Linked DNA regions of Homo sapiens. The protein of the gene in region 2 purifies or fractionates together with the protein of the main gene of each other region. This does not show direct contact. Each region holds a gene or a part of one and is shown on either strand. Other genes may lie near its edges. The genes, in order: HDHD5, CDKN3, ROCK1, ARHGEF28, PTPN5, UNC45A and ARK2N.

The links.
Region 1: the proteins of CDKN3 (region 2) and HDHD5 purify together in Homo sapiens (affinity purification with mass spectrometry, with the first as the bait; one large-scale study listed by BioGRID). This does not show direct contact.
Region 3: the proteins of CDKN3 (region 2) and ROCK1 purify together in Homo sapiens (affinity purification with western blotting, with the first as the bait; one study listed by BioGRID). This does not show direct contact.
Region 4: the proteins of CDKN3 (region 2) and ARHGEF28 purify together in Homo sapiens (affinity purification with mass spectrometry, with the first as the bait; one large-scale study listed by BioGRID). This does not show direct contact.
Region 5: the proteins of CDKN3 (region 2) and PTPN5 purify together in Homo sapiens (affinity purification with mass spectrometry; one large-scale study listed by BioGRID and IntAct). This does not show direct contact.
Region 6: the proteins of CDKN3 (region 2) and UNC45A purify together in Homo sapiens (affinity purification with mass spectrometry, with the first as the bait; one large-scale study listed by BioGRID). This does not show direct contact.
Region 7: the proteins of CDKN3 (region 2) and ARK2N purify together in Homo sapiens (affinity purification with mass spectrometry; one large-scale study listed by BioGRID and IntAct). This does not show direct contact.

What each region holds. Positions count from the first base shown.
Region 1 is NC_000022.11:17,139,319-17,142,890, reverse strand, and holds part of HDHD5 (haloacid dehalogenase-like hydrolase domain-containing 5 isoform 2 precursor), read left to right. Parts: intron 1-682; coding exon of another isoform or gene 683-822; exon of another isoform or gene 823-1,494; coding exon of another isoform or gene 1,495-1,498; intron 1,499-1,657; coding exon 1,658-1,832; intron 1,833-3,572.
Region 2 is NC_000014.9:54,410,219-54,414,661, forward strand, and holds part of CDKN3 (cyclin-dependent kinase inhibitor 3), read left to right. Parts: intron 1-1,265; coding exon 1,266-1,488; intron 1,489-4,443. UniProt on the Homo sapiens protein: May play a role in cell cycle regulation. Dual specificity CC phosphatase active toward substrates containing either phosphotyrosine or phosphoserine residues. Dephosphorylates CDK2 at 'Thr-160' in a cyclin-dependent manner.
Region 3 is NC_000018.10:20,950,644-20,955,086, forward strand, and holds part of ROCK1 (rho-associated protein kinase 1), read right to left. Parts: intron 4,402-4,443; coding exon 4,140-4,401; intron 3,143-4,139; coding exon 2,935-3,142; intron 745-2,934; coding exon 741-744; 3' UTR 1-740. UniProt on the Homo sapiens protein: Protein kinase which is a key regulator of the actin cytoskeleton and cell polarity.
Region 4 is NC_000005.10:73,912,474-73,916,916, reverse strand, and holds part of ARHGEF28 (rho guanine nucleotide exchange factor 28), read right to left. Parts: intron 1-4,443. UniProt on the Homo sapiens protein: Functions as a RHOA-specific guanine nucleotide exchange factor regulating signaling pathways downstream of integrins and growth factor receptors. Functions in axonal branching, synapse formation and dendritic morphogenesis.
Region 5 is NC_000011.10:18,739,322-18,743,764, forward strand, and holds part of PTPN5 (tyrosine-protein phosphatase non-receptor type 5), read right to left. Parts: intron 4,109-4,443; coding exon 4,001-4,108; intron 3,755-4,000; coding exon 3,671-3,754; intron 3,183-3,670; coding exon 2,941-3,182; intron 2,567-2,940; exon of another isoform or gene 1,472-2,566; coding exon 1,282-1,471; exon of another isoform or gene 1,103-1,281; intron 1-1,102. UniProt on the Homo sapiens protein: May regulate the activity of several effector molecules involved in synaptic plasticity and neuronal cell survival, including MAPKs, Src family kinases and NMDA receptors.
Region 6 is NC_000015.10:90,937,638-90,942,080, forward strand, and holds part of UNC45A (protein unc-45 homolog A), read left to right. Parts: intron 1-2,093; coding exon 2,094-2,186; intron 2,187-2,668; coding exon 2,669-2,836; intron 2,837-4,443.
Region 7 is NC_000018.10:46,211,345-46,215,787, forward strand, and holds part of ARK2N (protein ARK2N), read left to right. Parts: intron 1-4,443. UniProt on the Homo sapiens protein: AMPK substrate important for exercise capacity and skeletal muscle function.

The DNA.
Region 1 (3,572 bases), on a different chromosome or scaffold from region 2:
AAAACCGTAAGCTTAGAGAATTTTAGTGGTGGAAAGACACCTAGAGGTGATCTAGTCTAGTGTTTCTCAACTTTTAAACCCAGTTCTCCCCTTTTTATACCAAGAACATTGGAATATCCCCTTTATTATCCTGAAGTGAAATTCTTAGGTAATATAACTTCTGTACACACATATTAAAAATTAGTTCAGTATAAAGCCCTAACTGTAATAGGGGGATATAAAAGGAAACATTTTTAGTAAGAAGATAATGTATTTCAGTATGTAGTAGTTATCCAAGAAGTAAAATGGTTGCACTAAACAGAATCACCATGAATGTTAACAGCTACAAATGCAGGCTGATGTGTGTTTATAGGTGTGACAGGCGTGTTTTACCGGTGACTCAGAAATTAGGGGCAGCATTGCCGTTGGTCAAGTGATTTTCCAAAATAGGTAACAGTTCTTGGTAGAGTTTTGAAAAGGCAAAGTACAGTCTTCTCTTGACTTACACGATAGTTGTATTTTTGGAAAAATTGATGTTTATTGAAGCTGTACAAAAATGCTTTGTGATTGTATGTAAAATAGAATCGTTCAAGTAATTCTGAAAAGGTTGTTCACCTGTGTGGATACCAGGATATCAGGTGGGACATTCAAATGTTATGAGGACATGGGAAAGTTTTTTCTTTTTCTTCTTGTTGTTTTGTAGAGACGGGCTCTCACTATGTTGCCCAGGCTGGTCTCAAACTCCTGAGCTCAAGCAATCCTACCACCTTGGCCTCCCAAAGTGCTGGAATTACAGACACAAGCCACCGCACGCAGCCATGGGATGGTTTTTTTAAAAATTAATTTTAGTGTGGGATAGTTTTTGATTGCACAGGATTGTCCTGAGTATGTAGCGTCCCTGGCCCCCTCCCACAACCTTCACTTGCTAGGTTCTAGTCATTGTGACAACTAAAATTGCCTCTGATTTGTAAAGCACCTCAGCAGGGGCGGTGCTGCCCCATGGAGAATCACTGGTCTGGTGCAGTTCACCGGCCCTGTACCTTAGTGTCAGCAGTGTTCTTTGCCTAGTGCTTACTGTGTGTCTAGTCCTGGGCTGTTTACCGATGATGTAGCTCATTTTTATCCTCACAATAGCTAAGTGCTGTTGCTGTTATGTAGTTGCAGTTGAGGAAACTGAGGCTTAGAGAAGAGAAGTTACTTGGCCACAGTCATACAGGAGAATCGGTGGAGTCCAGGTTGGGTTTCAAGTCTCTATCACTCCACACCCCCTGTCCTGGCTGTTAGGTTCTGCCAGTCCCTGGGGCTCAGAGAGAAGCGACTGAGGGAACAGGAGCCCTTGCTAAGTCATGTGAGGGAGAATGTGGTGGCAGAGTCCCAGCCAGCAAGGAGAAGTAGCCCTGAGACATGCTGCTTTTGTTTTGTAACCTCTTCTGTGAAGCACTGGTGGACTGAAGTCAGAATGGGAGCCCTCAGGAATCTCCTTCCTGGGCCCTGGGCCTTGTGCACCCAGGGTGGATGGGTAAGGGGCTCTACTGGGCTTGTTGGGGAGCTGTGCCCCTGCCCAGCTGGGTGCACCATGGGTGGAGGGCTTGTGGATGGGTAGCCCTAGCTGGCATCCTGAGGGCCTGCCGCCTGCCATCTGCCCTGCAGCCCTCACCTGCGCCTCTGTTCTTTAAAGGGGTGCTCCTCCTAGGGGAGCCGGTCCGCTGGGAGACCAGCCTGCAGCTGATCATGGATGTCCTCCTCAGCAATGGGAGCCCTGGGGCTGGCCTGGCAACACCCCCCTACCCCCACCTCCCCGTCCTAGCCAGCAACATGGATCTCCTGTGGATGGCTGAAGCCAAGATGCCCAGGTGAGGACACAAAGCTCCCAGCCTTGGCCTGGTGGTCTATTCCTGGCTGCTGCCTGGGCAGTCCTGCAGGCAGTTCCCATCCGTCCTGACACCCCAGGTGCCGGGACCTCACTTAGGTAGGCCCTGTTGTTGCTGCAGTAACCTGGCCTTTGGAAGGGCTTTCAAGGACCACTCCACATATTAGTTACTAAACCTAAACTACAGATTATGGAGTCTGAGGATGTATTGAGAGGATGTTTCACACGTGACCCCTGCCCCCTGTAATCTTTACAGAACATGCTCTTGGTGTCTGGTGGATCCCAAACCGTGGGCACTTTTTGTACCGTATCTGTGCACATTATTCAGTTGCTCTTCCTTCCTTGGCTCCATCCTGTAGCATTGGTTCTTTGACTTTCTGGTTTCCTTTTACCCTTCAGACATAAGGCAGGAGGAAGCAAGGATTTGTCGTTTTTTGTTTGTTTTGTTTTTTTTGCGGGGACAGTGTCTCACTCTCTCATCCAGGCTGGAGTGCAGTGGTGCAGTCATAGCTCACTGCAGCCTTGAACTCCTGGCCTCAAGTGACCCCCGTGCCTCAGCCTCCAAAAGTGCCGGGATTACAGGCGTGCTCCATCATGCCGGCCAAGGATTGTTCTGATAGTCGTATAGACCAGAGAACTGAGACCCAGCAGATAAGTGGCTTTCTCAGGGGCATGCAGGTGCCTATACTCCCTGCTCAGCTGTGTTGGTGTCATGTGTCCTGTCTTATTCTGGGGCTAGCACAGATAGAGGCAGCCCTTTTTTGGCCTCAGGGTGCTTACTTGAAGGCCAGCTGACAGCTGCTGTGTACTGTTCGGTTGCTGTTATCTGCATGGCCAGTCTCTTGAGTCTCAGCCTGCTGTTGACCCCCAGTCGACAGTGCTCGTCAGCAGAGGGTGGGCACGGCCCAGTACTGCCTCAGGGCCCGTCTCAGTAGTCCCAGAGAGACGGGGTATGGTATGCTCTTGTCACTTTTAAAGTGTATGTCTGTGGCTCGAGGCTTGGCATTGTCTCTGAAGTATTATTCCTAGAGGCGGGTATGCTGACACTAGATCAGTGGGCTTGGTTGGTTATGTCTCTGTGAACTGAAAAGCAAGGGGCAGATTTCAATTTACAAACCAGATTTTAGATGAACTTTTCTAATTAAAAGTAGAATTATTTACATAAATGACACTGAAAGATGTGGTGGCTCATGCTTGTAATCCCAACACTTCGGGAGGCCGAGGTGGGTGGATCACCTGAGGTCAGTTCAAGATCAGCCTGGCCAACATGGCAAAACCCCGTCTCTACTAAAAATATAAAAATTAGCCGGGCATGGTGGCAGGTGCCTGTAATCCCAGCTACTCGGAGGCTGAGGCAGGAGAATCACTTGAACCCAGGGGGTGGAGGTTGCAGTGAGCTGAGATTGTACCCAAGCGCCAGCCATCATATCAGCATTCCAGGTGTCAAGAAGGAGTTGGGGAGGGCAGAGAGGGCAGAGAAGAATACCGTCCCCAGTTTGTTTGTTTTTTTTTTTTAGATGGAGTCTTGCTCTTTTGCCCAGGCTGGAATGCAGTGGTGCAATCTTGGCCCGCTGCAACCTCCGCCTCCCGGGTTCAAGTGATTCTCCTGCCTCAGCCCCCCAAGTAGCTGGGACTACAGGCATGTGCCACCACACCCAGCTAATTTTTGCATTTTTGGTAGAGACAGGCTTTCACCATGTTGGCCAGACTGGTCTTGAACTCC
Region 2 (4,443 bases):
AGACCTAGAATCTCCCTGCAGCAGTTCCTGAGATACTTTCTTAGCCCTTTCTCAGAAAGTTGGAAAATCACTGGATAATAAAAATTACCAAATGTGTACAAAAGGCAAATAGATGTATAGTACTGTACATCTCAGGGATTAGTTCATGAGAAGGTACTTTGTACTTAAATAGCTACATGTCCTTGGATTTAAGGGACAGGGAGAGGGCTGGAGTTGGGAGCACTTAGATCATCCAGTTATTTATTTTAAACCAAATGCTCAATAGTTAATATTGCCATAAAGAAGTCCTAGTGTATAGAATGCCTATAGTATTCATATCATTATAATGAGAATAGCTAGGTCACAGAAGTTTAATACAGGTAATGTTTTATTTACTGGCGACCTAGTCTATAAAATTAAATACACAAGGATGTGTTACAGTGCAGATATGAGGGAGAATACTAGCACCTCTGACACCATGGCCATGCTGGAGATTTTATATACAATACTCAGAGTCAAGCAAACAGCTAAGTGATGAAGTAGCAGACATGGTTGATTTTGTGAGAAAAAGAAAAAAAGTGCTATCATCCTTAATTGAACATAGATCTATCATACCTTAATTGATAGCACTTTTTTTCTTTTTCTCACAAAATCAACCATATTTGCTACTCAATTTTAAGTGTTTTAAGAGTTATTTTATGCCAGGCATGGTGGCTCATGCCTGTAATCCCAGCACTTTGGGAGGCGGAGGCGGGCAGATCAACTGAGGTCGGGAGTTCAAGACCAGCCTGACAAACATGGTGAAACCCCGTCTCTACTAAAAATACAAAATTAGCTGGGCGTGGTGACACATGCTTGTAATCCCAGCTACTTGAGAGGCTGAGGCAGGAGAATCACTTGAACCTGGGAGGCAGAGGTTGCAGTGAGCTGAGATCGTGCCATTGCACTCCGGCCTGGTGACAGAGCAAGACTCCATCTCAAAAAAAAAAAAAAAAAAAAAGAGGGGGGGTTATTTTAAAGCAGTATTCATTGCAAAAAAAAATTTTTTGCAAGAACAGCAATTGACTTATTTTGAAATTCAGTAAAAGGCATTTTGACTTGTAATATGAGGTTTAATTCTAGACCCCTTTTGATTCAGACATATCAATAGGCACTTCAGATTTATAGATTGTCATTTGGTATTAGTTTGGCTTAAGAAATTTAATTTCATATTCTCCCTCTTGATGGTATTTAAATGTGTGATGTTTTCTATGTGTGTGTGTCTGTGTATCCTGGTCTATTGGCAGAAGAACTAAAGAGCTGTGGTATACAAGACATATTTGTTTTCTGCACCAGAGGGGAACTGTCAAAATATAGAGTCCCAAACCTTCTGGATCTCTACCAGCAATGTGGAATTATCACCCATCATCATCCAATCGCAGATGGAGGGACTCCTGACATAGCCAGCTGCTGTGAAATAATGGAAGAGCTTACAACCTGCCTTAAAAATTACCGAAAAACCTTAATACAGTACGTTCTTTTCTCCATACACTATGTGAGAAATGTCTCAGTCAAAATGATTTCTGGAATTATGGTAGCCCTATTCAGTTATCACCTACTTCATAGTTTGTTGTAAGGATTAAAAGGTAATAATGCACTAGGAAAGCACTGGCACAATGTCTGGTACAGGGTAAGTAGTCAAATACGTGCTGTTATTACTTTTCAAGAGTAGGGACAATAAATGAGTAGATTTGGAAATTGTTAGAACAAGGTTACAAGCTTTTCTTTTTTATTTCTTTCCTTTAGTCTTAGACCTTTAGTTGCAATTTTGGGACCCTCCTTTCCCCTCATCACCATCACTGCCTCACTTATTAGCTTTTCAATTGCTTAGTTGCTTTCAATAGCAAGAAAATCAATTTTTTGGCCAGGTGCAGTGGCTCGCGCCTGTAATCCCAGCATTTTGGGAGACTGTGGTGGGTGGCTCACTTGAGCTCAGGAGTTCAAGACCAGCCTGGGCAACATGGCAAAACCCCATCTCCGCAAAAAGTATACAAAAGAACATGCCAGGCATGGTGGTACGTGCCTGTAGTCCCAGCTACTCAGGAGGATGAGGTGGGGGAACTGCTTGAGCCTGGGAGACAGAGGTTGCAGTGAGCCAAGGTGACAGTACTGCACTCCAGCCTGGGTGACAGGGAGACCCCATCTAGAAAAAAAAAAATAAAGAAAGTCGATTTTTTCAAAATTAGCTACCAAAAAAGTTACCTCTAAGCAATAAGCAATCCTAAAAATATGACTTGAAAATTACATTTGATGATATGACTGCTAACAGATTGAAAGAGGGCCTCTCATTGTGTGTCAGTGGCTATAAAAACACAAGCTGCTGGTGTGAAAGTTTAAAACAAAAGAAGATGGGTTAAGGAAAGGGGACAAAATGAGGAGGAAAGAAAAGCAGCTTGGAGGAAGGCCAGAGAGAGTGGCAATGGGCAGTAGATAGTAGCATGGCAAAGATTCAAAGGGGCGATGTGGATAAAAAACAAGAGATGCTCTGCCGGAAGTGAAACACACAAAGCAACAGAGAGCCAGCCATGGGGAGGAAACTGGACTTTGCCGTGCATAATGTATATTTCATATTCTAATAACCTGCTTAATCCTTTCTCGAATAAGGTAGGGTATTAAATAGTTTACGACCTCAAAAGCCCCAAGTTCCTTAAGGACATTGCTTTGAGCTAGAAGTATAGAAATTATATCAAATAGCCATGGGGTTCTCAGGGCACCTAGTCATAGGACAAGCCCAGCCAACTTCTCCTCTTAAACCTATAGCCCAGGGGCCTCATGCCAACAGTGTCAGTTCTGAAGGCAAACCAACTAGTACGAGGGTCTTTGGGGACACACACCTGTTTGTGGCCAAACTGAACTCTGACATACAGAGAAATATAGTTTGCAGAATATGCAGTAGAGAACTAGAAGCCATTCTACATCCTATTGTTTCCCATCTTCCTCTATGGAAAAAGCATAGTCACTTAACCAGTACTAATTATAAAAGCTAAATTTCAAATAGATCCAGTTGATGATGTGAAAGTTTCTGATACATATAGGTAAAATAGTATTAGATAGTTAAATGTAGCTGGGGAAAAATATTTTCCAACATAGGGCCCTATTTTTCAAACCATTTTGAGATCTTTTTTTTTTTTTTCAAATAAATTTTTGAAAGCAGCCTCTACTGAAAAGTTTCCAGAAATCAAACTAGCTCTGTTTAGTGAAGTGAAGCTTAACAAATTCTACTGTAGCTGGTTCTGGCAACCCAAATGCTCTGATGTTTGTGCAGAGTACAAACAGGATAGACAGTAGATGGGTGACTTTGCATATGCTGAATGTTTCAGTCTCCCATAAAATAAAGCATCTGACAACTGGCATTTTTCATTGTCCTAGAGCTTTCGAAGGTGTCCTACGGTGACTAGTTTATTTTCTATCCATTCTGCCATCTTTGAGGACCCACACTTCTAGACAGCTATAGAGCTTATCCTTCAGCAACAGGATCTGGTAAACCTTTTTCACTGACCTGTTGTCTACCAGTGCTGTCTCACTGGTTCTGCCTGGACATTTGCAGCCCTTTATAAAATTAGTGAACAACACTGCTTGCCTACTGTATTTTGTAGTTTCTTGGGGCTATTGTAACAAAGTACCACAAACCAGGTAGCTGAAAACAACAGAAATTTCTTCTTTCCCATTTCTAGAGGATGTAAGTCCAAAATTAAGATGAGAGCAGAGCCATGCCCTCTGAGACTGAGGAGAGTCCTTCCATGCCTCTTCCTAGCTTCTGGTGGTGGCCATCAATCCATGGCAGGCCTTGGCTTGCAGCTGAATCCCTCCAGTCTGCCTCTGTCATCACACACTTCCTCGGATGTCTGTGTCTTTGCATGGTGTTGTCCTTGTGTAAGGACACTAGTCATCTAGGATGAGGGCCTGCTCTAATTCGTCTTAACTTGAATATACCTGCAAAGACTCAAATTCTGAATAAGGTCCCACTCACAGGTACAGGATAAGGACTTCAGCATGTCTTTTGGGGGGACATAATTCAACCAGTAACACCTACCGTGTACCACACGCCAAGACTACCAAACGAGGCACAGTCCCCACCTTCGAGGAACCTATAACTAACACTACCATTTAACTGCAATAAGACAGGAGAGGCAGCACACAGGAAAATGATCCTTTCTGTAGGAGCACAAAGGCATTTTAGGAAATGAAATTTGAGGTTTTAAAAGATAAGTAGGAATTCATCAAATAGAAGAAAAAAGATGAAAATAGCAAAAGGTATAAAATAGTATTAATCTTGCAAAAAGACACTGAAGTGTTCTATCTTGATCTTTTTTTTTTTTTTTAATAAGGCAGTTGTCTCTTCTCTGTCACCCAGGCTGGAGTGCAGTGGCACTGTCATAGCTCACTGTAGCCTTGAACTGCCGGGCTCAAGCGATCCTCCCACCT
Region 3 (4,443 bases), on a different chromosome or scaffold from region 2:
GTTTCCTAATGTCTCTAGTAGTAAAATAACTCAATATGGCTTGGCAAAAATGCATAGATTAAATGTAACTTTTTTTTGTCCTCTCCCATTCCCCAAACTTGCTGAAACATATACAGTATTTTGTAAAGCATAATGAAAGATATTTAATTTCTCCATCAAGTCCAACATGGGCAATCAACAGTAAGGCTTTTAAATTCTACAGTGAGGGCACTGAAGTTCAAGTGATATCACTGCTTTCTTAAAATAGTTTTGTATAGTCTTGCAAGAGCACAAAAACTTAAGTCATTAAAAAAAAAACAAAACTTCAGTTTGTCTCATTTTGAGATATTTTCTTTACTCCTTCCATGAGCTGATCTTGATAGTGATGGCTGTTCCACTTGAAAGTGAAAGTCCCTTCCTCTTACTCATATGAGGAAAACTCTGTTCTATCACGACTGACAGGCATTTTCTTATAAATCCAAAAAGGCAGCACCTTTTAAAAAAAATATATCTACCTAAGCTTTCCCCCAACTGTACTTGCATTACATAGTAATAATTAATCTAATCTACCTGTAGGCAAACCCGCAATAAAAAAAACCCTCAGTGTGTTGTGCCAAAGCAAGGACAGAAAAACAGCAATCTTAACCCTGAAGCCTGTGATATTTGTGTCAAAGAAACAGCCTGTCTGCTCTGCATGGTTAAAGAAGCCTGGTTTATCAGGTAGCATCCCACACGATTCCACAGGGCACTCAGTCACATGGTTAACTGTTGAGGGAGGGGGAAAAAACTAATTTAAGAAATGCACTCAGTTTAAAAATACAAGAAACAAACATTAGGAGGAAAGGTAAATATACATTATCTTTACATAAAATAATTAACAATTACACAAAATTTGGAAAACAAGGAATAGGAAAAATATACTTAGTATTCTCTCCTCTTTGTTTCTACACATTTTCTTACTCAGCTATAATCTCATTTCAAATCATTTTAGATCCAGTTTACAACCTATGCTCAGGAGAAGGCTGACATAGCATTCTACAGAATTAAGTTAGCAGTAAGGTGATAATACCTGGCATAGTATGGTGGCTGAGAAAGGAAAGGATATAAGTCATTTCAAAGAATTAGGCCTGGTTACTGACAATAGGGCATGAACAAAAGGGATGAATTCAAGATGGCTTTAAGCCTGCTTGGAAGATGTAGGTGACATTGGCAGCGAGGCAAATCAGTGTTAGGTCTCAGCTTCTAATTCGAGTGGCCCTATTAATCTAGGGAGTACACTCTAGGGAAGGTGGTATGTGGTAGAATAGAGGCTTTGGAATTGGACAACATAGGCTTTAGAATTGGACAGAAATGGTTTCCAATCCATTGGCTGTGTGATTGAGCAAACTGCTTAATTTCTCTGAGCCTTATTTACTAATGTGTAAAATGAGAACTTAATGAGATGAGATTTCATTATTTCTCTCCAAGAAAGAGTTAACTGCCTGGTGCGGTGGCTCATGCCTGTAATCGCAGCACTTTGGGAGGCCCAGGAAGGTGCATCACCTGAGGTCAGGAGTTCAAGACCAGCCTGGCCAACATGTTAAACTCCATCTCTACTAAAAATACAAAAATTAGCAGGCCGTGGTGGCATGTGCCTGTAATTCCAGCTACTCAGGAGGCTGAGGTGGGAGAATAGCTTGAACCTGGGAGGCAGAGGTTGCAGTGAGCTGAGATTGCGCCACTGCACTCTGGCCTGGGTGACAGAGCGAGACTCTGTCTCAAAATGAATGAATGAATGAATGAATGAATGAATGAATGAATGGTTATGCCTTATAATTGTTTATCATGGCATAAAACATATTTTTGGAAAAAAGTCCATCAAAAATAGTTAAACAGCCAGGCATGGTGGCTCACGCCTGTAATCCCAGCACTTTGGGAGGCTGGGGCATGCAGATCATTTGAGGTCAGGAGTTTGAGATCAGCCTGGCCAACATGATGAAACCCTCTCTCTACTAAAAATACAAAAATTAGCCAGGCGTGGCATGCGTCTGTAATCCCCGCTACTTGGGAGGCTGAGGCTGGAGAATTGCTTGAACTTGGGAGGTGGAGGTTGCAGTGAGCTGAGATAGCGCCACCACTGCACTCCAGCCTGGGTGACAGAGTGAGACTCTGTCTCAAAAAACAAAAAAAAAAAGGGGGTCATGAGTTCACATCCTTTGAAGGGACATGGATGAAGCTGGAAACCATCATTCTCAGCAAACTAACACAGGAATAGAAAACCAAACACCACAGGTTCTCACTCGTAAGTGGGAGTTGAACAATGAGAAAACATGGACACAGGGAGGGGAACGTCACGCACCAGGGCCTGTCGAGGGATGGGGGGCTAGGGCAGGGATAGCATTAGGAGAAATACCTAATGTAGATGATGGGTTGATGGGTGCAGCAAACCACCATGGCACGTGTATACCCATGTAACAAACCTGCATGTTCTGCACATATATCCCAGAACTTAAAGTATAATAATTAAAAAAACATAGTCACTGATAATACCAAATAATTTTGTATGTTGGGATAGTATGGGAAGTTAACAAAAAAGGGAAAAACAATTTTGGTTTTTGTAGAAAAACTATGCCAACACAGTTAAAAAACAGAAAAGATGATGAAAAGTTTTATATGAATTTCTGCATTAAAAAAATTAAGTTGGTTAAAGCATTAAGGGCTAAAACTATGCCATGTACAGCAACTTATGACAATAAAATTAGACACAGAACTAAATAAATATAATATTGCATGTATTATTATTATTAAACTCTAACAAGAATAAGTTAAACTAATTTATAAAGTCACTGCAATTCACATACAAATACCTAAAAATGATGCCCTCTGTGGTGAAAAGCACAATTAGATTTCTGATTTTAATAGCTGTTATCCAATCATTTTCACATTGTTAAAAACGTTAGCATTTCAAATCCTTACCTAGTTTTTCCAGATGTATTTTTGACCACTTTCCGGAAAGACTGATTTGCAGTGGATCTTGTAGAAAGCGTTCGAGGGGAAGCACGAACAAAACCAGATGGTGGATTCTTAGGGATTTTCTTTACTAAATGAGTTACCCATTTTTTTTGTTCATCCTGAGAACATGCTAACAGCAGCATATCTCTTGCTGATGTTACATCATAACTTACTATGTTAAGGAGGAAAAAAAAAGCATAATTAAAGCCATATAGTTTTTTAAAATCCAACCTATCAAATGCATAGTTTTTCAAGTTCTTAAGGTTTTAAAAGTTTTAATATGCTTAATTAAGCATGAACAATATCTCATTCTCCTTAAGTTAAATAAGGCTGAAATTAAAAAAAAAAATTAGTCAAACTAATAAAGTAAAATCAGAAATATAACAAAATGTAAAACAAATAAATGTATTTAAAGAACATAAGCTTCTTATCTGAAAATAGCTATGGTCTGTATTCTTTCCCTCAAGCTACCTCTGTAAAACTAGAAGATATTCTGTGATACAGCATGCATGCTGATCCAGGCAGTGAATGCCAGACAAAAAGAAGAGGAAAAACTCAAGGGAGGAATAGAGTGGAACTCACCTGTTGCTCTTCTCTCCAACTTGGAATAATTTCTTAGCAGCATGTTTGTTTGTTTTTGTTTGTTTACAAGGGGGTGATTCTCTTTAAAAACACTGTTGGCCGGGCGTGCAATGGCTCACACCTGTAATCCCAGCACTTTGGGAGGCCGAGGTGGGTGGATCACCTGATGTCAGGAGTTCGAAACCAGCCTGGACAACATGGTGAAACTCCATCTCTACTAAAAATACAAAATTAGCCGGGTGTGGTGGCACACGCCTATAGTCCCAGCTACTCAGGAGGCTGAGATAGGAGAATCACTTGAACCTGGGAGGCAGAGGCTGCAGTGAGCTGAGATCACGCCACTGCACTCCAGCCTGGGCGAGACAGAGTGAGAATCCATCTCAATCAATCAGTCAATCAATAAAAATAAATAAAAACATTTTTAAAAGCTAAATCTGTAAATAGCTGCATATTGCCCCACCAGTGTCAAAATAATACTTTCTATAATCTCTTTTCAACTTGGTATAGAAATCACTACACATAAGTTAGTTCATTGAGACTTAAAATTAAATTTGTTATAAGTTGTAACAATAATTACCATGCCTTACCTTTACATGGACAAATTAAGTCCTCTTTCTTATCTAAGTGATCTCTGTGGCACTTAACATGGCATCTTCGACACTCTAGGGCAGGGGGTGGCTTAAAAACATGCCAGAGAGGTTTGGCACAGGCATCACAATTGGCAGGAAAGTGGTAGAGTGTAGGAATAAACTCATGGCCTTTGTGATTTTGGAAATTAGTTTTTTCAGCTTGTTGTACTGGTTCCATCTCTACATCTTTTCTACATTCACCTTCATTTGCATATAGTATCTACATTCAGGAATGGTGAAAGGAAAAGATTTTAAAAATCTT
Region 4 (4,443 bases), on a different chromosome or scaffold from region 2:
TTATTATGTAATTATTATTTTCTTTACAAAGTTCAATTCACTTCCCTTACCAAGTCAAAAAACTAACAATGTTGTTATAGTTCAACTTTGGTATATATAAAATTCAGGCTTTTTAATATTAAATTAAGGCTTTCATGACACCTAAAACTATGGTAGGGAGAAAAATCATCATTTTGTCCCCTGTTAAGAGCTGAACTGTGTCCCCCCAAAATTCACATGTTAAGGTCCTAACCCCCAGTAGCTCAGAATGTATTTGTAGATACAGCTTTAAAGAATAAAGTTAATTGAGGTCATTATGGTGGGCCCTAATCCAATATCACTGATATAAAGAGAGATTGGGGCACAGACAGGCACAGGGGGAAGACCAGGTGAAGACGCAGGAAGAAGGTGGCCATCTCATCCGCAAGTCAAGGAGAGAGGCCTCGGAAGAAACCAACGCTGCCAACACCTTGATCCCTAATTCTAGCCTCCAGAACTGAAGAAATAAATTTCTGTTGTCTAAGCCCCCTAGCCTGTGGTACTTTGTTATGGCAGCCCTAGTCAACAAATACATTCCCCCTCTTCAAATACACTCACATCATAGAAGTTTATGGTGTCTAATACCAGTTTCAATTTCCAGGAAAATTGCCTAAAGTTCTTTGGGCAAAGCTTCTTTCCATATAGATTACACAAGTAAGGTGTCAATTTCTGAATTATGAAATATTTTAAAACATGAGAAATTATCATCCTCTCACTTCTTAAGACTTATTTAAATACTAAGTATGGCATAGGTTTTCATTTGGAAATTTTCTATTTTCTTCCCTTACATAAAAAACTTGTCAAAGTTTAACACAGCTGTCTTTTAAAAAAAAATTATCAAGATGAGGTATTCTAAATACAATGCTTTGAATTTTGAAAATAGTTTCCTTGGCACCAAATTCTAATATGTAGTAAAAGGAAAGAGAACTCAAACTTAATCAAGTTACTTTTTTCCCAGTATCTATATTATTAACATAAAATTTGGCTTGACTTACATTTTAGCCTATGCATAACAAAATCATAATGCTTTAACTGAACTGAAGAGAACTTTTGGGAAACCTGCAAATATTGAGGCATACAGAAAAATACAACTGAAAAGGGAGATTAGGATTTCAGATTTTTATACCATAAGATGTTTCCTCTGTTAATGAAAAAGGCAAATAACATATAGATGCATTCAATATATAGTTCTAAAATGTTAAAGCTAGGAGAAAAAAAGCCACAAGAATAAAATGTTGGGTTTTTTTATTGTTGTTTCTTTGTTTTTGCCTTTCAGAGTAATGCTGTTGAGCATCTCATAGGGCCGATTACATAGCAATTGTCCCACAGAGACTATTGTTTAAGGAAATTCAAATATTCTGTAGTCTTGGCTGGTGTCCCATAGAGGAGTACAGAAAAAGTTCTTAAGCCAACCATCTCTTCCACTACAAATAAAATATCAATTTGGATTTAATGTTTGAACATCCAAGAATTTTGTTCATGAAATAACTTCCAAAACTGGAAAGTAAAGTTCTTTAAAGTTCTATCTTAAAAAATATTTACAGATAACATGGGTTTATTATTAGGCAACATTGGAGAAACAAAATATTTTTAAGAAAATATCCCTTATGAGAAAAAAGTAAAGCTAAAGAGTATTTATGATACTGAAAATGTTCAGGCCCCATGCAAGAGTTGGCCACAGTAATCCAAAACATTTAGAAATATTTTCCAAATGTTACTATTAAAAAGGGAAGGAGGGGAGAAAAAAAAACCAATAAAAACAAAAACCTGGTCCTTAATCATGAACATCCCACTAGGCATTACAAAAGGATTAGATTAGTTCTATATCTAAACCAACTTCTTTAAAAAGTACAACTCATGGCTGGGCACTGTGGCTCATGCCTATAATCCCAGCACTTTGGGAGGCTGAAACAGCCAATCGCTTCAGTCCAGGAGTTCAAGACCCGCCTGGGCAATATGGGGAAACCCCGTCTCTACAAAAAAGCCAAAAATTAGCTGGGCATAGTGCAAGTCTGTAGTCCCATCTACTCAGGAGGCTGAAGTGGGAGGTTGCAGTGAGTCCAGGAGGTGGATGGAGCCCAGGAGGTGGAGGTTGCAGTGATTGAAAATCACGCCACTGAACTCCAACCTGGGCGACAGAGTGAGACTCTCAATCTCAAAAAAAGTACAGCTCAAAACAGCTTTCTAGAAATTAATAATTTAGCCCGGGTGTGGTGCCTTAAGCCTGTAATCCCAACACTTTGGGAGGCCAAGGCCAGTGGATTACTTGAGGTCAGGAGTTCGAGACCAGCCTGGACAACTTGGCGAAACTCCGTCTCTACTGAAAATACAAAAATCAGCCAGGTGTGATGGCGGGCACCTGTAATCCCAGCTACTCAGGAGGCTGAGGCAGGAGAATCACCTGAACTCGGGAGGTGGAGGTTGCAGTGAGCCAAGATATTACCACTGCACTCCAGCCTGGGCGACAAAGAGAGACTCCTTCTCAAAAAAAAAAAAAAAAAAAAAAAGCAATTCAGAATGTATAGTGTAATGATTGACAGCATGGGCTCTAAAGCCAATCTTCCCAGGTTCAATTCCCAGGTTCAATTTACTAGCTATGTGATCTGGACAAGTTACTTGACCTTTCTGTATCCCAGCTGCCCCTCTCAAAGGACAGAACCATCTCAGTGGGTTGTTGTGAGTATTAAATGAGTTTCCCCATGTAAAACCTTAGCACAGTGCCTGAAATTTGATGTGTCATATAATTACTGGTGGCAGGGGTGGGGGTAGAGCAATTCAGAAACCAATCACAATTAGAGCACAAAAATGTCTGCTGAGGCTGTACTGAAAAAACCAACAGAAATTCCTATCTAGGTGGTATCTAAACACATTGGAGAATTGTTTTTATATACAATTTTTCCCATCAGCCTTACTGTTCCAGAAATTCACATTTTCACTGATCTGAGCTGATCATCTATCCACAGTACCAGACTAGGCAAAAGGGCAAACCATTCTTTAAGATGTTACCTGGAACGGCAGACGTTATGGCCTAACAATGAAAGAGTGACTGAAGCCTGAATGAAATCATGGTTAAGTACACATTTAGCTAAAATACCAGCCCACAACATTATAGGCAAATTATGTTAGCCAGATTACAGTGAACTATGGAGATCCTCAGTAGTGGTCACTGATGGCCACTCACCCAGATTCAGCAGCAAAACACAGAAGAGGGGACAACAACACTGCCTGGTCCTTGGTTCTGGCACATCAGCTGTTACCACCCAGCACACCCTGGAGCCTGCTTCTTCCTGTCCGGCCCCCCGCAGTCACTGTCCCCCAAGATCATGTGTGGCAAGCGCCCACGGAGCCTAGCTAAGGCCATCACCAGTGGCTGATGTTGTGTTACTGTCAATGATAAAAGCTGTGAAAGCTCTGGAGGGTTTGAATAATTTTATCTAGCCTTGACCACTCTTTTAAGTGTATATATCCTATTCTCAATCCACTTTCTTATCACCGCCTATTCTCTGACTTTCTTTTCTCCCCTGTAGAAATTGCTTATCATGAAGTAAACATAAATAAGGTTTTTTGACTAGCTGCAAAACTCCAGTGGTGAACAGTACACACAGCATTTCTGATGTAATCCCTACTTATATAAACCAGGATGTTCCTGAGAGATTTAAGCCACAGTTGACTTTCTTCTCTCCTGTCAATGTCCTGAGCGTCCTTGGCCTACTCTGGACATACAATTTCTTAAGCGTAAGTACATTTCTCAGCATTTCCTTTGGCTCTAATTCCTTACATGTGGATAGACTGGTTTTGTATATAATCACTGTTTATTTCCTTAGTACATTTTCTATCTACTGCAAGTATGCTGCCAAATGGTTTAAAAAGTTTTACTTTGAAGCACAAGTCAATAGAAAAAGATGGGAGATACACAAAAAGTAAGAGACATGCTTCTTTTAAACAAAAGCTGAATGTGGTTTAACTCAAACTGAGTTTCGGAATTATACCAAAGCCAGTATGTAAAACCATGCTGACAAAACCACATGAAGCACTGTAAATAGCAGATTAATGAACCAACACAGCAAAGCAACATGTGCTTAGAAAAAGAATTCTGCAATCTGCTCTCTATTGTAGTAAAGTTGTAAGATAATATATTAAAGAAGTTACATTTTTCAAAATTTGGCTTGACCTTTTATTTAATCTGAACGATTCCATCATATTTTTTCTTTACCTAAAGAATATCTGAAATAATACTTTAAAAAACTATTTCATTCTCTCCTATATGCTGACAAGAAAGAAGAATGTTACCACGGTGACTTAAGTAATGTAAAGAATTAGCCACTATTAAGAATCAACATCTTTTGGATCAGTAATAAATCAACTTATAAGCAGTATCAGAATTATTACTCTTGAATTGGGAGAAGCCAAATACCTTCAAACCTT
Region 5 (4,443 bases), on a different chromosome or scaffold from region 2:
CAGTGGGAGCTCAGAGAAGGAGCTGAGGCTGGGGTGGTTAAAGAAGGCTTTCTAGAGGCATCTGGAGTGAGTGATGATGTGAGCAAAGGCACAGGAGGAGAAAGGCACGGACGAGACTGGCCCAGTTTGAAGTGGACAGTCCCTGCAGGGGTGGGGCATGGGGCATAAGGCTGGAAAAGGAGGCTGGGGCCACACGAGGTAAGGGGTGCTGATGGTGTATGCAGGTGGTACCAAGTTCTGGAGAACTTGGAGCAGCAGATCAGATGATGATGGAGGTCTTCTCACAGGGGAGAGCTACCCGGTCCAGACAGGCCCAGGGCGGAGGCCAAAGGAAGGGAGCTATGAGGGAGGAGGCACCTGCTTCTGTACCCCTGTGGCTTCTACCAGGAGGAACTCACCCCAGATACTCTTGGCCTCTTGCCTTTTCCTGCTCACAGAAGTGAGGAGTTACCTGTTTGGTGAATTTGGTTGAGGAATGGAGCTTTGGAGCCTCAGCCCCTTCCTTCCTCCTCCTCTCAGGGCCCTCCTGCCAGGAAAGAATTATAGGGGTGCCCCCATGCGGCAAGGTCCGAGATGTGCCGGCACCCCTGTGGAGGGTGGAAAGTGCATGTAATTCTGGGTCTCAGTATCGGGAGGCTCACTCTTGCTGTACCCTGCTAAGCCACATTTCCAACCTGTATTTTATTGACAACAAAGGTGATATTGTAATCTCCTATGCCTTAGCTCTTAACTGGCTGAGCACTCAGGCAGGTAAACAGGGGTGCCATTTATTGAGCCCCTCAAAGTCCAATAGGAGGCAGCTGGAGGCTGCTGCAGAAGCCAGGGTGGAGGTGATTAGGACCTAAGCTAGGGCCCCAGGGGTGGTAACGAGGGGAGGCCACTAGAGAGATTTCAAAGGCAGAAGAACAATGCTCGGCAGGAGGAAAGTGGGAAAACAGAAGAGTTAGAAGTGAAGGTTCTCTGTGGCTTTCAGAGCACAGCACTGGGCAATAAAGACTTAGCATTGTCACTGTACCTCCATCACCTGGCTGGGTGCTCTGCACATGTTATAAGTCTCTTTAATCTTTGCAACAATTCTATTATTTTCATCCCCATTTTCCAGATGAGGAAACTGAAGCTCAGAGGGAAAGCAGCTTGCCCAAGATGGTGGGAGAGCTGATAATAAAGTGATACTAATCTACTGCAGATGCTGAGTTCCAGGCACCACGCTCCACCACCTGGGCAGGTGGATGATTGACATGGGTCTGCACACAGTGGGGCGACCGGCTCAAGGGAACTCACAAAGAATTCCGCCTGCAGCAGGAAAGGGTCCAGGGCCTTTTCATGAAGCTCTTCTGCTTGGAGGACACGGGAGGCGCTGAGCAGGTACTCGCGGGCGGACTCCTCACGTGGGGACATGAGATAGCCAAAGCCCTCCTCGTTGCAGCCCGGAGTGCACATGTCCAGGGTCAGGGAGACATTGGAACCCCTCCTGGAAGGACCAGGAAAGGGAGTGTGAGCCTCAGGGGCAGAGGGACGGGCATGAGCTGGGGTCTCCAGGGCTGGGAAAATGAGGGAGGGAGAGATCAGCTGGGAACAGGGTGGGGTTGAGGAAGAGGAGTGGGAGTGTGACAAGACCCCCTGACAAAGAAGCGTGAATCTCAGCCCTGAGGCATTGGCCTGACTCCCTATCTCCTGCCTCCTGCAGTGGAGATGTTAACTTAGTGGGGATTTGGGGCTCCAGTTCTAAAAGTTCCATCCAAAGCTACCCCAACATGGCCTTACCCTGGACTCTCCTCCATCACCGTTGGAGGAAGTTCTACCCTGTGGTCCCCAGGAAGCTCAGAGAGGGGACACCTGCCTGAAGCACAGAAGCGGGGCTTGGGCCCGAGAGGATGGCTCCAGACCCTCCCCACTGCAGTCCCGGGCCCAACAGCCCTGGGATGAGGCTGCTGGTGAGTCAAGGACATATTGTCCAGGAGAGGCCAGGACCCCCGCTGTCAGGAAGGAGGGAGTCCCAGGAGCAGCACGGTGGCCGCAAGGATGTCTACAATGGGCAAACTCTACTATACTCAGAGTCTCAGACACAGGACAGGATGGGGCTTCATTACATAGAAAGAGAAACTGAGTCCCCATGAAGGGCCAAGAGTTGTCCAGGCTCTCCCAGTAAGGGGGTGGCAGAGCTGAAATAAAAAGCTAGGTTTCCTGACTCCACACCCAGTGTTCTTTCTGTGACATCACATGGGTAACTCAAATTTGGTGTGATCTGGCTCACCCACCTAGACTCTGAAACGAGGGTGTCTACACTTCTCAAAGTGTGCTCTGTGGAACACTATGAGCTACCCTATAAAAACAGGTTCTAATTGGGTACCCAGGTACATAAAGATGGCAACAATAGAAACTGGGGACTACTAGAGGAGGGAGGGAGAGAGGCGGGCAAGGGATGAAAAACTAACTGCTGGGCACTACGCTCAGTACCTGGGTGATGGGATCATTTGTACCCCAAACCTCGGCATTATGCAATATGCTCAGGTAACAACACTGCACATGCACCCCCTCAATCCAAAATAAAAGTAAAACAAAAAAATAGAGTTCCGTGGTCAAGTGACTTTGGGAAATGCCACATACTGCCCCCTTGCTGATTTACAATGAACATAAGCATGTTAAAGGCCCTGACAAGTCCTGCAGCAAAGAAAACCACCCAAACTTACTTGAGCATGGGAGAGTGTGTGTGAACATGTGTACACCTATGTGTGCGTGTGCAGTAACAGTATTTCTCAGCATTCATCTTGGGGCACTTTGATCTCTATGAATGACCTGGATAGCACATGTCTACACTGGCTAAGCTATAAGGCCAGCTCTGCCCTGGGCACCAGGAGTCAGAGTCAGGCATCCACTCTTCTGATCAGGAGCTAAGAGCTCAAGGGCCCGTGGAGCCCACCCCTCCTCCACCCCTCCCACCTCTCCTGCAGACCCATGGACTTGACGGTGAGTGAGGTGGGGTCAGCCTCAGGCTTGATGTCCATCACACAATCAAACACAGGAGTCTCGGGCACCGGGTCGAGGTCCAGGAAGTCATCCTCGATCTTCTCCTCCATCCACTCTGAGTAGGTGAAGGAGGGCTGGCGGCTCACTGACTGGCGCCTGTCCTCAGGGGGCAGTGGGGTGGGTGGCTCTGGGGGTGTCCTCAGGAGGTGCCACACCTGGTTGGGGTGTACAGCATCACAGATTTCGGACCACGCTGGCTGCCCCCCGTGTTCCTGGAGTGCCCATGGGATTGACGCCCCCCCACTCCCTCAGTGTGTCTAGAGCAGCTCTGCTCTCCTGGGAGTTGTCCACAAGGCACTGCCCCTGGCCTCGATGGGAGGCTCCATGCCCACTCTCCTTCCCTGCCCCTCCCTCTCCCAGCTCTCTGTTTCTTGTGGCTTCAGGCCTTCTCAGTGGGGCTTGGGAGTTCCTACACCAGTCTTCTCCCTGTCTCATCCCCTTTCCTTAGCCCAGATCACTGCAAACCAATTTTCGGAAAGAAGGAGGCTCTTGCCCCAGGCTGGCACACTTGTGCAAAGAGATAGGTATCCCTCCTTGCCCCACCCAGAATGTCCAGCCTATAAGTCAGATGGGAGCTGGTAGAAATCCAGGCCTCAAGGTCAGAGGAGGACAGCCTTGAGGTTGGGGTCAGGAGGCGCCTTACCAGGGTGGTAACGAGGACCAGGCCCACGGACAGAAAGACCAGCAGCAGACTGGGGACTCCCCACGTCCCAGAGTCAAGCCAGGCCTGGGGAACATCAGATAAACAGGTCAGGGTGGTGGTGGGGGCAGAGTTCTCAGCTCTTGCAATGATGACAAAACCAAGATTCTGAAAATCACGTCCCAGGTCTGGGATGGGGAGCAGGCAGAAGAACTTCAGGGGCTTGGAAGTATCTTCTGAACTCAGAGAAGCCCAATCTGGAGGTTGGGGAGGGTGGGACTAGAGGCCCCCAACAGATCCCTGCTACCCTAGGACTCCCCAAAGCTTACTTACCGTGGGTTCCAGCTGTTTCAGGAGCGTCAGCAAAGAGGAGACGAGGTTTGTGGCGTTCTGTGACCAGATGTGGCCATAACCGCTGAACCAGAGCACCCCACAGGCAAGCTGGGGCACAGGGGAGCAGGCTGAGTATGGAGCCGGCCCCCTTCCCCCGTGTTCCCCCAGCAGAGCTCACCTGCAGCCTCAACCTGGCCCTGCATGGAGGCTCCTGAACCTCTAAGGTCCAGACCGGGCAGCTGAGAGCAGGGCCCCGGTGCTGCGTGCCCGGGGAGGCCTCAGGACTCTCCTTGGAGAAAAGCTGACTGAAGGGAACCAAGAGAAAGCCCTTTCCAGAGAGGACCTCACAAATATGTACATCAAAAGAGTAGTCTCCTAGAAAGGCCTCCACAGACAGGAGTTCTCAGGAGAACCCTGTACGGCTGGGAGCTCAGGGGTCGGGG
Region 6 (4,443 bases), on a different chromosome or scaffold from region 2:
CACCACGCCCGGCTAATTTTTTGTATTTTTAGTAGAGATGCGGTTTCACTGTGTTGGCCAGGATGGTCTGGAGCTCCTGACCTTGTGATCTGCCTGCCTCGGCCTCCCAAAGTGCTGGGATTACATGTGTGAGCCACTGCACCCAGCCGAAAATATTTTATTTTTTAAATTTATTTTTATTTTTATTTATTTATGTATTTTGAGACGGGGTCTCACTCTGTCACCCATGCTGGAGTACAACCTCTTCCTCCCGGGCTCAAGCAGTCCTCCCACTTCAGCCTCCCAAGTAGCTGGGACAAATGCATGTCACCACGCTCGCCTAATTTTTATATTTTTTGTAGAGACAGGGTTTTACTGTGTTGCCCAGGTGGCTGGTCTTGAACTCCTAGGCTCAAGGGATCTACTCACCTCAGCCTCCCAACTGGCTGGGATAACAGGCGTGAGCCATGGCACTGGGCCAAATATGCATTTTTGTTTCTTTATTTTTTCAGGAAAATATTTTAAAAGATATACATCAAAATGATAACACGGTGACCCCTGGGGAAAGGAATGGGATTGAGAGGGCTTTCCAAAGGAGACTGCATCACCTGTTCATATTTTTTTAATAAAGAGAAATTGTGTAAAATACGTATATTTTTAAATTAGGAGAAAAGAATCTAAAGACCATTATGAGCTACAACCAAGCTCAAATTCGCCAGATAATTTGACGTTAAAATGCTGACACAGTGGAAGCAGATAACATGATGGCAGACACCTCACTGAAATGTTGAAGCCTGGGAAAGCAAATAGGTTTCCTCTCTCAATGCCAACTCTGATTGGCAGTGGCTGCCCAGAGTCCTATGTTGAGAAGAATTAGGAAGCAGATTGCCTGAGCCAAGCAGGGGAACGTGCCATGACTGGTTAGTCATGGCTGCCATGGATGCAAGAGAGGAAGGCGGGTGGTCCACATGCTAGGCTTGTGCCACCATCTATGCCCAGGACTCTGGGGGGTGGGGGAGTAGGCCTAGGATGATCTTCCCCATTCAGATTATTTATTTATTTATTTATTTGTTTGTTTTGAGACAGTCTTATCCTGTCACCCAGGCTGGAGTGCAGTGGATCTCTGCTGACTGCAACCTCCACCTCCCAGATTCAAGCGATTCTCCTGCTTCAGCCTCCCGAGTAGCTGGGATTACAGGCACCCGCCACCACACCTGGCTAATTTTTATATTTTTAGTAGAGACGGGGTTTCACCATGTTGGCCAGGCTGGTCTCAAACTCCTGACCTCAGGTGATCTGCCCACCTCGGCCTCCCAAAGTGTTGGGATTACAGGCGTGAGCCACCGTGCCTGGCTTCAGATTTTATTTATTTATTTTTTTGAGACAGAGTTTCACAGTTATTGCCCAGGTTAGAGTGCAGTGGCGTGATCTCGGCTCACTGCAACTTCCGCATCTTGGGTTCAAGTGATTCTCCTGCCTCAGCCTCCCGAGTAGCTGGGATTACCGGCATCTGCCACCACGCCCGGCTAATTTTTTGTATTTTTAGTAGAGATGGGGTTTCACCTTGTTGGCCAGGCTAGTCTTGAACTCCTGACCTCAGGTGATCCACCTGCCTTGGCCTCCTAAAGTTTTGGGATTACAGGCGGGAGCCACTGCGCCCAGCTCAGATTATTTTTAAAACAGTGAAAAGAGAATTCTGGAGCTAAAGGAAGTGTTAGCAACTACCTCACGATCTGCCAGCTCCCTGGCAGGAGGTATAAATGCTGAGTTCAGTGCCATGGGAAGCCCATTCACGCTGCCACAATGTAGATGGCACCACTGGGAGTGGGTTGCCTCGTAGCTGACAGGATACCTCCCCTCCGAAAAGGCACTCCAGCATCGGCGCAGCCCCTGCTGCCCAAGCAGGAAATAGCTCAGAAAGAAAAACAGGTGCGGGAAATTTAGGAGGCACTGCCAGGCAAGTCTCTTCCTGCCCAGGGTAGCTAGGTGCTAGCCCTGAGCCTGGACATCTTTACTGTGCCTCCCAGAGTGAGGAGCTGGAGACAAATGAATAGGGAGTGTGATGTCTCTGGCCAAGAGCCGTGATTTGTTCCATGCTTTGTTGGTTTGTCTAGGTGCGATACATGTCCTCGACGGATGCCAAAGTGGAACAGATGTTTCAGATACTGTTGGACCCAGAAGAGAAGGGCACTGAGAAAAAGCAAAAGGTATAGGCCCTGGGCTGAGTCAGTGAGTGAGCTCCCACTAGAGCCACCCATCCATAGGCCCCCGAAGCCACTGCTGCCTTGCTCTGCCGCTCCTCCAATCGTGCAGCTGGGCTCACGGGGCCTGGATGGGAGCTCTGAGGGTCTGGGGCTTTAGCGTGAACCAAGGAAAGAGAACCAGTGTTCACAGAGTACCTTGTTGGCCACGCCCTGTGCCAGGAACTGGGTGTACAGAGGTAACTGAGGCACTGTCCCAGCCCCTCAGGCTCTGCTGGGGACTCATTTGCTCTAACCATCAATCCCGAGAGAAGGCTCTTCCCTCTATTTACAGAGGAAGCTAAACTTCAAAGAGGTTATTTTTTGGCCGTGGTCACTCAACTGTGAAGTGGAAGCAGAGAGGTCCAGGGCTCGGGGCCCCTGCTCACCAGTGCTGCATCCTATGCCGTGTGCAGTGTCAACATTATAATGTGCTTCCTTTGACGCAGGCTTCTCAGAACCTGGTGGTGCTGGCCAGGGAGGATGCTGGAGCGGAGAAGATCTTCCGGAGTAATGGGGTTCAGCTCTTGCAACGTTTACTGGACATGGGAGAGACTGACCTCATGCTGGCGGCTCTGCGTACGCTGGTTGGCATTTGCTCTGAGCATCAGTCACGGGTAGGTGGAGTGGAGAGGCTGGTTACAGCTTCAGTCCCTTTGTCTGTCTGTCCATCCATTCCTCCATCCACCCATCTGTCCATCCGCCCATCTGCCCGTCCATCCATCCATCCACTCTTCCACCCTCTACCCCTTACCTTATTCTAAAAAGAACTTAGGTAGGTTATGGTGCCTCACACCTGTAATCCCAGCACTTTGGGGGGCTGAGGCAGGTGGATCACTTGAGGTCAGGAGTTCAAGACCAGCCTGGCCAACAAGGCGAAACCCTGTCTCTACTAAAAATAAAAAAATTAGCCGGGCATGGTAGTGCACGCCTGTAATCCCAGCTACTCAGGAGGCTGAGGCACGAGACTTGCTTGAACCCAGGAGGTGGAGGTTGTGGTGAGCTGAGATCGCGCCACTGCACTCCAGCCTGGGTGACAGAGCGAGACTATCTCAGAAACAAAACAAAACAAAACAACAAAAAAAGAAAAGGCAGAGTACAAGGAGATACATGTAACAAGAGAGAAAAAATAAAAATGGCGTGAAAAAGACCAACATAAATTAGGATGAAGTGGGGTAGAAAGAGCAAAAACAGCCTTGGGGTACCCCAAGCACTTGCTTTGTAGGGGGCTTACAAGTGTGAGCCCCAGCTTTCCTGCAGCCAACTCACAAAAACACATTGGTCACTGACTCCTTCAATGTCCATATGGCACAAGCAAGCTCATGGCCCAGAATGTGCCTGGCCACCACAGCATCTACCATCGAGACAGTGACCGGACACGTAGGGCTTGATCCCGACATGATTCTCAGCATGGATGGTGGTGGCCCAGCATGGACAGTGCAGCAATAACAGTCCTGCTCCTGGGCCAGTGTGGTGAAGTCCATGCCCCCAGCTCTTACCTGAGCTGGCTTGCTCCAGGGGAGAGGGGACCAAAGACTAGGCCCTTGGTTGCTTTTAGAGGAGCCCACAATTCCTAGATAGGGGTGAAACTGTGAAATAGTCAATGAAATCTCTTTAGGCTAAGCTTGGGCTGCATTCTGGGTCTCCCAAGGCTAAGACTGTTAAAAGCATGTGCATTCTGTTCCCTCCTGCCTTCCGGTCCATTCCAGTTCACAGTCTTGGCCAAGGACACTTAGCTGCTAAGTGGAAGCAGTCAGGATTTGGGCTCAGTGGACCAAGCAGGCCTTCTAGGGTTCTCCAGCTTAGAAACAGGGTGGAGAGGGCCCGGCGCGGTGGCTCATGCCTGTAATCCCAGCACTTTGGAAGGCCGAGGCGGGCAGATCACGAGGTCAGGAGATTGAGACAATCCTGGCTAACACGGTGAAACCCCGTCTCTACTAAAAATACAAAAAATTAGCCGGGTGCGGTGGCGGGCGCCTGTAATCCCAGTTACTCAGGAGGCTGAGGCAGGGAAATGGCGTGAACCTGGGAGGTGGAGCTTGCAGTGAGCCCAGATCGCGCTACTGCACTCCAGCCTGGGCGACAGAGCAAGACTCCGTCTCAAAAAAAAAAAAAAAAAAGAAAAAAGAAAGAAACTGGGTGGAGAGGTCTCACGGGCCCATTCCGTGTACGTGACGTCCACATCCCCAGGGTGTGGAAAGAACCTCAGGGTTTAGACTGGGGA
Region 7 (4,443 bases), on a different chromosome or scaffold from region 2:
ACCACAGCATGTGCCACCATGCTCAGCTAAATTTTAAATTTTTTGTAGAGATGGGGTCTTGCCATGTTGCCTAGGCTTGTTCCACTGGTTTGATAGAAGGAGATGTCAGGTTGCATTGGGTTGCAGAAGGGAGTGTGAGAGTTAAGGAAATAGAAGTTTATACAACTCTCACAATAAGATTGACTGTGAAAGACGAGCATGATACCTGGAGAGGGAGATGTGAGATTGAAGGTGATAGGTCAAAGGAGGATTTCAAAAATGAATGAATGGTCCAGTTGGGTGTGGCAGGTGGACGAGAGCCAAGGAATAATCAATAATGTAAGATATTAGGGAAATGAGAGGGAGATGAGCTCTAGTACTCATGTAGAGGAGGTTGCGTTTAGATTGGAGGGAAGAACAGCATGGGGGAAAGTGCTGTTCTAATAGGAAAAATGTTGTGTATTTATTACTTCACTGAATATAAATTTACTGTCAACATTAACCCAGAGGGTTGATAGCCTTTTATGCCATTTATGTGATGCAATTCCTATTTGACAATTATATCATTTTATACTGCTAGCTACTTGACTGTTCCTACCAGAAAAACCTATTTTTTTCCCCTTGACCAAAAACAATATATGCAGTAAATAATCTGGTTGTATGGAAAGATTAATCTTTATGTATGACATCATTTCCCCCTGTGGTTAGGGCACTTCGTTTTTATTCCACTGAAGGGAGTTTAGTCAGAGCTTATATTTTCACTTTCTGTGACTTTTTTCTCCTGTATTTAATTAATTATAGCAAAATTCCACTATAGGAAGAAAGCATAGTAGAATTTATTGACTAAGCTTGACCCAAAGAGTAGTCTAGTGTTATGGCCCCAGAAAAGCACAACTTCTTTTTCTTCAGAAGACTTTTATGTCAGAGTGGATTTTTGAATAGATAATGTTTGTATACATCACAAATTCAAGAGATACAAAACTGCATACCACACTGTCTTCTCCTGTTCCCTTATTCACCTGCTTTCCTTCTCAACTGGTATTACTATTTTCTTAAGTATCTTTCCAGAGTCTATGCATCTACAGATAAACTCATGTAAATATAGTTTTGTTATTTATTTACATAAATGCTATAATGTATCTTTTTTCATTAAAATTGCGTGAGAACTGTTTCTTACCTCTCTATATAAAGTGCTTTCTCATTTTTTTAATGGCCACATTGTATGAACATACCATGATGAGCTAACTTTTGTCCTGTTTGTGGTCAATACTAGTCTTTTGTGATTGATTTGAGCATATTTAAGTGGTTTTGACTGCAATACCGGTTACTAATTTAGGTAGTATAAATTAAATCTCAGTTAACACTCAAATTTAAGGAACTTGAAAGATAATCATTAAATTGAATGATGTGCCATATTGTCATTTTTTTTTAACAGGGAAAAACAATCTAGATTTACCTGTTTTATCCACACAACTTATTTCTTGAAGAAACAAGCGTTGTATGGTCATTTTAACAAATTTACTTTTTAGTCTGATGCTGTATTATGTACTTTGAAAATATCCAGTGCTGCCTTCTTTCACAAATTGAGACTTTTGATGCTTGTCCTATATAGCTGACATTAATTCCATCTGAGTATATTTTCTCAGATATTTTAGCTTTAAGAAGAATTTTTTTTTTTTTTTTTTTTTTTTTTTTGGAGACTAAGTCTCACTCTGTCGCCCAGGCTGGAGTGCAGTGGCGGGACCTCGGCTCACTGCAAGCTCCACCTCCCGGGTTCAAGTGATTCTCCTGCTTCAGCCTCCTAAGTAGCTGAGATTACAGGTGCCTGCCACCACGCCTGGCTAATTTTTGTATTTTTAGTAGAGATGGGCTTTGACCATCTCGGCCAGGCTGGTCTTGAACTCCTGATCTCGTGATCCACCTGCCTCGGCCTCCCAAAGTGCTGGGAATACAAACGTGAGCCACCGTGCCCAGCCTTAAGAAGAATCATTATTCCAGAATATACAATTTGAATCTCCATAATAGAATTAACTCTCATTTTTATTCAGTTAGAAAATCTTTGTCCCCCCCACTGCTAAATTTGACTGGCTTAAAAAAAAGAACTTGGGTTTATTCCTCATACCTGGGGGTATTTTGTATCTGTGAATATTTTATTTCGTGTTTGTATTGACAGCATGCTTTATTTATAACGGTCTCCGTTGGTTTAACTGTTACTCCCTCTGTTGGCTTTCAGAGGTGTTACATTTTTTTGTAATGGTGTCAGAAAAAATATTTATGCTGATTTTCACTTAGCCTCCAACATTAGTATTATAATTGATACAAATATGCTTGTGAAGTAGGCTACACACAAGATTGTTTTATTTATTTTTTATTTATTTTATTTATTTTTTTGAGATGGAGTCTTGCTCTGTCACCCAGGCTGGAACGCAGTGGCGTGATCTTGGCTCACTGCAACCTCCGCCTCCCAGGTTCAAGCAGTTCTTTTGCCTCAGCCTCCCGAGTAGCTGGGACTACAGGCGCTCGCCACCATGCCTGGCCAATTTTTGTATTTTTAGTAGAGACGGGGTTTCACCATGTTGGCCAGACTGGTCTCGAACTTCCAACCTCAGGTGATCCACTTGCCTCCACCTCCTAAAGTGCTGGGATAACAGGTGTGAGCCACCACTCCTGGCCTAGGATTGTTTTAAATTAACAGATGTTTCAGTGGCCATGAATGTTCTGGTTTCCATGAATGTGTTAAGGAAACTTAATCAGAATGCCTGTTTTATCAACAGCTGAGAACAGGGCTATGAAAAACAACAGGCATATAGAATATTTATGTTTGTATTAAGCAAAAAGTGGGCTTGGCATGTTAGATCTGTTTTAAAGGATTTTGCAAATATTTCCTAGTTTTTGTCTGCTATAGATTGAACTATCTAGGTAACTTGATGGAGTGAGATGATGGAGATGCCATATTGCACCTAGCATACCGTATAGAATAATGGTTATGTGTGTCTGTGACCTATGGACATGATAGTTGCTTTCTGTAATGTAACACATACAGGGCAAGGTATTTACTTGTTTTCCATATTTAGCATCCTCTTTAAAAACCACCAGATTTTCAATAGGTTCTTGGAAACTGCGACTTTAAATGGAACAAGATACTGCTGGTCTTTGAATGATGTCCTTTAGTTATAAGGTTAATGAGAAAAATTGGTTTTGTTAAATGTCATTTCACTTAAAGTCTCAGTTTCCAAGAACCTGTTGACAATGTTAAGTAAGGACTTAACTGTATATAGGTCATAAGCTTTTGAGGTTAAATATTATGTCCTGTACCTGTATGGTTAATTGGAGTTGTATCACTCACAGTGGTGGTAGAGTGTTAGGTTCTAAATTTAGCATACAAAGTGTACAATGGGTGTAGAGTATTTTCTCTTAAATCCCTTTATTCATTCATAGAATATACTAGGCTTTCTGGGTTCTGTATTTAGTGACCATTGTGGATAAAACATCTATTTAAACACTAGACTCAAATTCAGCATGATGAGGTATGTGGGAGCTAGGTAGGATTGAGGAAGCATCAAATTCTGGCTTTTCATCTTAATGCTTCACTAGAGCAACTCCTATTGAGGGGACTGCAGACAAGTTGGATGCATAGTATTTGGTTGCTCATTTGCCAAATGCATGTAGTTGGAGTGTGTTTGTGTTTTTGTTTTTTTAAACATAAATGTAGGGGCCAGGCACGGTGGCTTACTCCTGTAATCCCAGCAGTTTGGGAGGCCACAGTGGGTGGATCACTTGAGCTCAGGAGTTCGAGACCAGCCTGGGCAACATGGTGAAATCCTGTCTCTACAAAAAATACAAAAATTAGCCGGGTGTGGTGGTGTGCGCCTGTAGTCCCAGCCATTTGGAAGGCTGAGGCAAGAGAATTGCTTGAGCCAGGGCAACGGAGGTTGCAGTGAACTGAGATTGCACCATTGCACTCCAGCCTGGGTGGCAGAGTAAGACCCTGTCTCAAAAACAAACAAACAAACAAACAAAAACATTTGATGTTTCTCTATTGTAACTCCCCTCCTCCCACCTCCTTTCTTTTTGGATTTGAATGTAAAAGTAGTCATTCCAGGTAATGCATTTCTAGACTAGTTTTAAAGCATTCTTTTTCATTTATATCAAAGTCAATGAATGCATATTAATTATATCAGAGTTTTGAAGATTTCTTTGTAGAACACTTTAAATAAAATTGTAAACTTGAAAATGTTCATTACATGTTGGCCTTTCAAGTTAGAGGATTAATATTATGGCATTTTTAGTAGCTCAGTATGCTTAGATTTTGACCGTATTAAGTCCTTTGAATTTGACTGTTGATCAAACAAGCAGATAATAATATATATATATTTTAAAGGCCTGTGTAATAGTAAGTTTTGCCCCACCCACTTAGAAAGGTAGGCATGTTGTGTTGACTAAATAATCTGGCATTCTGTTTAT